Homo sapiens: one gene and its partner. The protein of the gene in region 2 interacts with the protein of the main gene of each other region in a biochemical or structural test. Each region holds a gene or a part of one and is shown on either strand. Other genes may lie near its edges.

The links. Proteins that work in one complex are often made in the same cells at the same time.
Region 1: the proteins of NFKBIL1 (region 2) and PEX14 interact in a test that uses a peptide from one of them, tested with the Homo sapiens proteins (one large-scale study listed by BioGRID and IntAct).

Annotation. Positions count from the first base shown.
Region 1 is NC_000001.11:10,617,950-10,621,449, reverse strand, and holds part of PEX14 (peroxisomal membrane protein PEX14), read right to left. Parts: intron 3,119-3,500; coding exon 3,033-3,118; intron 1-3,032. UniProt on the Homo sapiens protein: Component of the PEX13-PEX14 docking complex, a translocon channel that specifically mediates the import of peroxisomal cargo proteins bound to PEX5 receptor.
Region 2 is NC_000006.12:31,554,108-31,557,607, reverse strand, and holds part of NFKBIL1 (NF-kappa-B inhibitor-like protein 1), read right to left. Parts: intron 1-3,500. UniProt on the Homo sapiens protein: Involved in the regulation of innate immune response. Acts as negative regulator of Toll-like receptor and interferon-regulatory factor (IRF) signaling pathways.

The DNA of each region.
Region 1 (3,500 bases), on a different chromosome or scaffold from region 2:
GCTTGAACCCGGGAGGCAGAGGCTGCAGTGAGCAGAGATCATGCCACTGCACTCCAGCCCGGGTAACAGAGTTAGACTGTGTCTCAAAAAAAAAAAAAAAAAAAAAAGAATTCATATATGTGTGTGTAACCAACTAAACACCCCATTTCTGAGATCAGAAGTCCTAAGGGCAGGAGCAGACACGCTGCCCTAGCCAAAGTCTTCACGTGCTTATAAAGCCAGTCGAGGGCTTTTTACCATTTCTTTTTTTTTTTTTTTTTAATTTCGAGAAACTGAGCAGATGCTTTAGAAATTCTCTTGTTACCATTGTGACTGATATTGCAATGTTTCTTTTCTTTTTAAAACAGAGCGGAGAGCCCAGAGCTTCGTAGAAACTACAAGTGGCAGCTCCGTGTGAGTGCCCACGCTAAGGCGGGCTGCCGAGCTGCCCTCCCGCTCCCGTCAGGCCACAGGCCCTCCATGGGTGGCCATGTGACAGTGCCTACTGCTCATTACAGCCAGGGCATTCATCTGAGGACTCTGGCGTTCGTGTCACATTCTTCTTGGTGCTTGTATACAGTCAGTGATTTGAAGGGGGCACCAGTTCAGAGGGAGAAGAACCGGGTCCCAAGAGGTGTTTTTGTTCTGTTCTGTTTATTTATGTATTTATTTGAGACAAAGTCTCGCTCTTTCACCCACGCTGGAGTGCAGTGGCACAATCTCGGCTCACTGCAGGCTCACTGCAACCTATGCCTCCCAGGCTCAAGTGATTCTCCTGCCTCAGCCTCCCAAGTAGCTGGGATTACAGGTGCACGCCATGACACCCAGCTAATTTTTGTATTATCAGTAGAGACAGGGTTTCACCTTGTTGGCCAGGCTGGTCTCAAACTCCTGACCTCAAGTGATCCGCCCACCTCAGCCTCCCAAAGTCCTGGGATTACAGGCATGAGCCACTGCGCCTGGCTTATTTTGTTTTTTAAATTGAGACAGGGTCTCCTTCTGTTGCCGAGGCTGGAGTGCAGTAGTGTGATCTCAGTTCACTGCAACCTCCACCTCCCGAGCCCAAGTGATCCTCCCACCACCCTCAGCCTCCCGAGTATAGCTGGGACTACAGGCTCACACCACCATGCCTAGCTTATTTATTTTATTTTATTTTATTTTATTTTATTTTATTTTATTGTTTGGTAGAGACACAGTTTCACCATGTTGGCCAGGCTAATATCAAACTTCTGGGCTCAAGCAATCTGCCTGCCCTGGCCTCCCAAAGTACTGGGATTAGAGGTGTGAGCCACGGCACCTGGGCCAACCCAGGATGTTTTGTTTCTCAATTTCTTTTTCTTTTTCTTTTTCTTTTTTGAGAAGGAGTCTTGCTCTGTCACCCAGGCTAGAGTGCAGTGGCATGATCTTGGCTTACTGCAAGCTCCGCCTCCCAGGTTCACCCCATTCTCCTGCCTCAGCCTCCCCAGTAGCTGGGACTGCAGGTGCCCGCCGCCATGCTGGGCTAATTTTTTGTATTTTTAGTAGAGTCGGGGTTTCACCGTGTTAGCCAGGATGGTCTCGATCTACTGACCTCGTGATCAAGTCAGGATCCTCAGCCTCAGCCTCCCAAAGTGCTGGGATTACAGGCGTGAGCCACCGCGCCCAGCCCTTGTTTCTCAATTTCTAACATGGAAATGTCCAGCTCCAGGAATACATGCTACACTTAAAAAATTATATTCTGCTACAACTGTCATTAGCTTTTGTATTACATCAAAAATGAAGAATCTGGAATACCATGGCTGACCATGTTTCATGTGCTAAGAGTGACCATGGCGAGTCTGAGTGCTCATTCAGGTTGTTTAAAAAAGAAAATCACCAGCCGGGCACGGTGGCTCAAGCCTGTAATCCTGGCACTTTGGGAGGCCGAGGTGGGCGGATCACCTGAGGTCAGGAGTTCGAGACCGGCCTGGCCAACAGTGAAACCCCATCTCTACTAAAAGTACAAAAATTAGCCAGGCATGCACCAGCACGCCTATAATCCCAGCTACTCAGGAAGCTGAGACAGGAGAATTGCTTGAACTCAGGAGGCGGAGCTTGCAGTGAGCCGAGATCATGCCACTGCACTCCGGCCTAGGTGACAGAGCGAGACTCCATCTCAAAAAAAAAAAAAAAAAAATCACCAATCAGGGGTGGAGGAGCTGGCAGCCTCGAAAGAAAAGAGGCTTCTCTACAGGGTCCCAAGATCTGGACTGGGCACCTACCCTGGCCTGCATTTTCTAGACTCTAGACTCATTTGCTTCACGTCCAAGTTGGGCCTTCACAAGGGAGTCAATGTTCACGTCATGCCTGCAGTTCTGTTGCAAGCAATGAACCTGGGATCCTGAAAGTTGACTTGAGAAGCCTGGGAAATCCTAGATTTCTATAGATGGCAGCACAACAGACAGAGCAAAAAGAACAGCTCCCATACATCTGATGACACTGAGGTTCTCACCGCCGCTCTTAAATGCTGTGGCAGAACAATGGTGTATAAAGCACTTCCATGTGCCGGGCATGGCTCTGAGTCCTCTACAAGGGAGACTGACTCTTCCGGACTTCACGACAACCTTGTGAAGTGGGGACTGTTATTCCCATTTTACAGACCAGAGCCTGTGATCACCAAGCTCCTGAGGGGCAGAGCCAGGGCTCAGCAAAGCAGCTGGCCCAGCGTCCATGCTCTTCGCCATTATGTTATTCTGTGTCTCAAAACTGCTCGCACGGCTTCCCCGTGCGGGCACTACTGTAAGTGCCTGACATGGGCTGGCAAGGGACAGACCTCACGACGCCCCTGCAAGTGGAGATCTGGGTGGTATATGCTGAGCACTGGAGAAAAGGTGGGCAGAGCCTGCCAAGCCCCACAGCAGGGCAGGGTCTGCCTGGATCCAGCTGTGAACCCCGACCTCTACCACAGCCTCTCACTGCCAACACACTCCAGGGCAGAGCACGGCAGTGCCTCCATGCAGGGGAACCAGTGAAAGGGTGCTGAATGCCACAGGGTGGCAGGGGCACAGCACCTGCAGCCGCTGGGGGTGACTCACCTTGTAGAGCTGGTGAAAGCCAAATGCAATGCCTGCCATGATGATGGCCAGGGCGCCGTAATCTCGCCATCGGGAGCCTGCGGGACCTACAGGCGGGAAGAGGAGGAGGGTTAGAAGACGCACATGGCGTCCTTCTTCGGGTGGGGGCTGGCACAGGTGCCTCAGTGGCACAGTCTCCTCGCCTCCAACAATGGGCAAGTGGAACACTCCAACGCAGGAAGGCAGCACATGATCATCACAACAGCAGCCGGCTCCACCCCTCCTGTTCCCACTGCCTCAACTGGGACACAAGGGATGCCAGTCACCCAACCCTGACTGCAGGCTGTGGGTGGAGGTATCTAGCAGTGAGCTGAGACCTGAGTTGGCAGTCAGGTGGCAGAGGTGATCTGAAGACCAACAGCATGGTCTCTACCTCAGGAACAAAAGATCCAGAGAGGATAACAGGAGTATGTTTAGGGGAGCATAAAT
Region 2 (3,500 bases):
AGCAGAAGTTAGCTGGGACTCCCACTCCTCGGCAGAGCTGCCATCTTGAATCCTGCTGGTCACTCGCTCCCTTGGTCTTAAAGCAATGGAAGGGTGGCTCACATGGATGCCTCCTGGGTATTAGGAAATAACCATCACTGATAAATACAGACTGATAGTTTACCACATGCATGGTAAGTGTGGTAGTTTAAAATATTCTCGGCCAGGCGCGGTGGCTCACGCCTGTAATCCCAGCACTTTGGGAGTCCGAGGCGGGCGGATCACGAGGTCAGGAGATCAAGACCATCCTGGCTAACATGGTGAAATCCCATCTCTACTAAAAAATACAAAAAATTAGCCAGGCCTGGTGGCGGGCGCCTGCAGTCCCAGCTACTCGGCAGGCTGAGGCAGGAGAATGATGTGAACCCGGGAGGTGGAGCTTGTAGTAAGCCGAGATCGTGCCACTGCACTCCAGCCTAGGTGACAGAGCAAGACTCCGTCTCAAAAAAAAAAAAAAAAAAATTCTTACTTGTGTCTCCACAAACTATTTCAGCGTCCTAGAAGTTCTACCATGCCAACTGACATTTTCTGACCTGCCTCCAGCCACCAAGGCAGTGCCCAAATTCTTTGACTATGTATTCCACTTTTCACTTAAAAATATTGTCACTATATAAATCCCTTATTTTCTCACCTGAAACCATATATCAGACTGGGAAAATATCTGAATGCTCTACTCTGGGCCATTAATAAATACACAAATATGTAATACTTATCTTTTATTATCACTTATCAATAAACTGAGTAAAATAAATGTTTTCAGGGGAATTTCTCTCAGCCAGCCTTACCAGGGGATGATGGGAGAGGGGTGGGGAGGTGAACCGGCAACAACTATGGCCGGCGGCAGAGCAAGCTCTTTCCAAATGACTGCTGACCTAGGGCAGGGGAAAGGGAGTGGAGTGTGACAGAGGGTCTCACCCATGGGCTGAGAGAAAACAGGAGAGGAACCGACGTTCCTGAACTCCCCTTTTCTTCAGTCCCAACCTTGCTGCATCTGGCCCAAGGTTAGCTGAGTGCCATGCTACTTCCTTCACTGCCAACCCAGGCATCCTGGCCAGGCCCACCTGCTGTGGCCACCAACCACCTCTTTCACTTGGGGGATAGAAGAAGGGGAGGGAGGCAGCCTTCCTTCCTGTGGACCTACTTTCTTTCCCCGGGGTAAGAGGAAATGGGCTAGCAGTCCTTAAATCTTTATTTGGTAGTGCTGGAAAGTACTGTTTACCTGGCAGAAAGCTGGAATAGGGGAAGGCAAGGCCAGGAAGGCAAGAAGACAGAATGGCCCAGGTGTGGCTGGCGAAGGCCCACCATCCCTACCCAAATCACATCAGGGTTGGTGGGGGGGGGCACTTCTCCCTAGTGCTGCTGTGACCTGTCACAGACCCTCTCAACTTGTCCCACCCAGAAAGTACCTGGTCCTGTCTCTCATTCGCTTGTTCCCCACCTGAGCTCAGGTGGTGAGCATGGTGAGTGCTCAGGCTTGCATGGGAGGTTTACATTCATAGGTTTTAAGGAGTAGGGCCTCCAACTATAAAAACATAATATTAAACAGCCACTACAACTGAGGCATGTGTTTGAAAAAAGCTGGCTACAAAACTGTAGAGAGGATCAGATGTGGCCAGGCACGGTGGCTCACGCCTGTAATCCCAGCACTTTGGGAGGCTGGGGGGGGGGGACAATGGATCACAAGGTCAGGAGTTCAATACCAGCCTGGCCAAGATGGTGAAAACCCGTCTTTACTAAAACAAACAAACAAAATATATATATAATTATATTTTATATTATATATAAAATTAGCCAGGCGTGGTGGCTGACGCCTGTAATCCCAGCTACTTGGGAGGTTGAGGCAGAGAACTGCTTGAACCTGGGAGGCGGAGGTTGCAGTGAGCCGAGATCGCGCCTCTGCATTCCAGCCTGGGTGACAGGGTGAGACTCTATCTCAAAAAAAAAAAAAAAAAAAAAAAAGAGAGAGAGAGAGAGGATCAGATAATAACTGTCTAAAACAAGAGACCAAATCCTATGGTTGGAAAAAAAGAGGCCGGGCGTGGTGGCTCATGGCCTGTAATCCCAGCACTTTGGGAGGCTGAGGCGGGTGGATCACCTGAGGTCAGGAGTTCGAGACCAGCCTGGCCAACATGGTGAAATCCTGTCTCTACTAAAAATACAAAAATTAGCCAGGCGTGGTAGCATGTGCCTGTAATCCCAGCTACTTGGGAGGCTGAGTCAGGAGAATCACTTGAACCTGGAAGGCAGAGGTTGCAGTGAGCTGAGATCATGCCAGTGCACTCCAGCCTGGGCAACAGAGGGAGACTCCCATCTCAAAAAAAAAAAAAAAAAAAGAAAAAAAATAGACTGGCAAAAAATATGTAAAAATTCTAGCCTATGGGTGGTGGGGCTGTAGGTGGCTTTTCCCCCAATTTTATTTGACATTTTAATGTGAAAGGGATATAATTAAGTTGAAATTTTCTTTTTAAAGAAGGACGAACAAATTTGATAACTATTAACAGTGTACTGTGATCCCTTCCAGTCCCACCTTGGTGTACCTAAAAGCATACATATGACACATTTATTTGGAGATATGTAACCATACTACAAATATTGCTTGGCAACTTGCTTCTTTCATTTAACATCTCATTTATATTTTTCCACAGGAATATATACAGTCTACCTCATACTTTTTGACGACTTTATAATTAGTGTTCCACTGTGTGTACAAAACAAATCTCCTTACCCCAATATCGATAGACTTTGTTTCAAAAAATGTTCAGCCTCATGAGTATCTTACAGTCTTTCTGTGGGGGTAGATTTTCATAAGTGGAATTTCTGAGTCAAAGGACATGCGCAATTTGGTCAAACTGCTCTCAATAAGTTTGTGCCAATATACAAGTGTGCCTATGTCTTCCTTTACCAAAATTGAATATCATCAACCCTTTTAATTTTGCCAGTTGGATAGATTAAAAAATTATTTTATTAACAATGTTTTTTTCTTTTTCATGTCTTTTGGCTATTTGTATTTTTTGTGAATGAATTGCTCATATTCTTTATCCACTTTTTCTTTGGAAATTATATATATTGATATGAGGGTTCTATATACTGTATGTGTTATACATATTGCAAACATTTTCTTCTATCTATCTTTAAAAAAGCTTTTTTTTTCTTTTTGAGACAAGGTCTCACCCTGTTGCCCAGGCTGCAGTGCGGTGGCATGATCTTGCTCACTGCAAACTCTGCCCCACCTGGGCTCAAGCGATCCTCCCACCTCAGCCTCCTGAGTAACTGGGACTACAGGACGACAGCCACGTACCACCACGCCTGGCTAATTTTGTATTTTTTGTACAGACCAGGTCTCACTGTGTTGTTCAGGCTGGTCTTGAACTCCTGGCTCAAGTGATCTGCCTACCTTGGCATCCCAAAGTGTGGGATTACAGGTGTGAGCTATCGCACCCGGCCTAAAATTTTCATGTAGT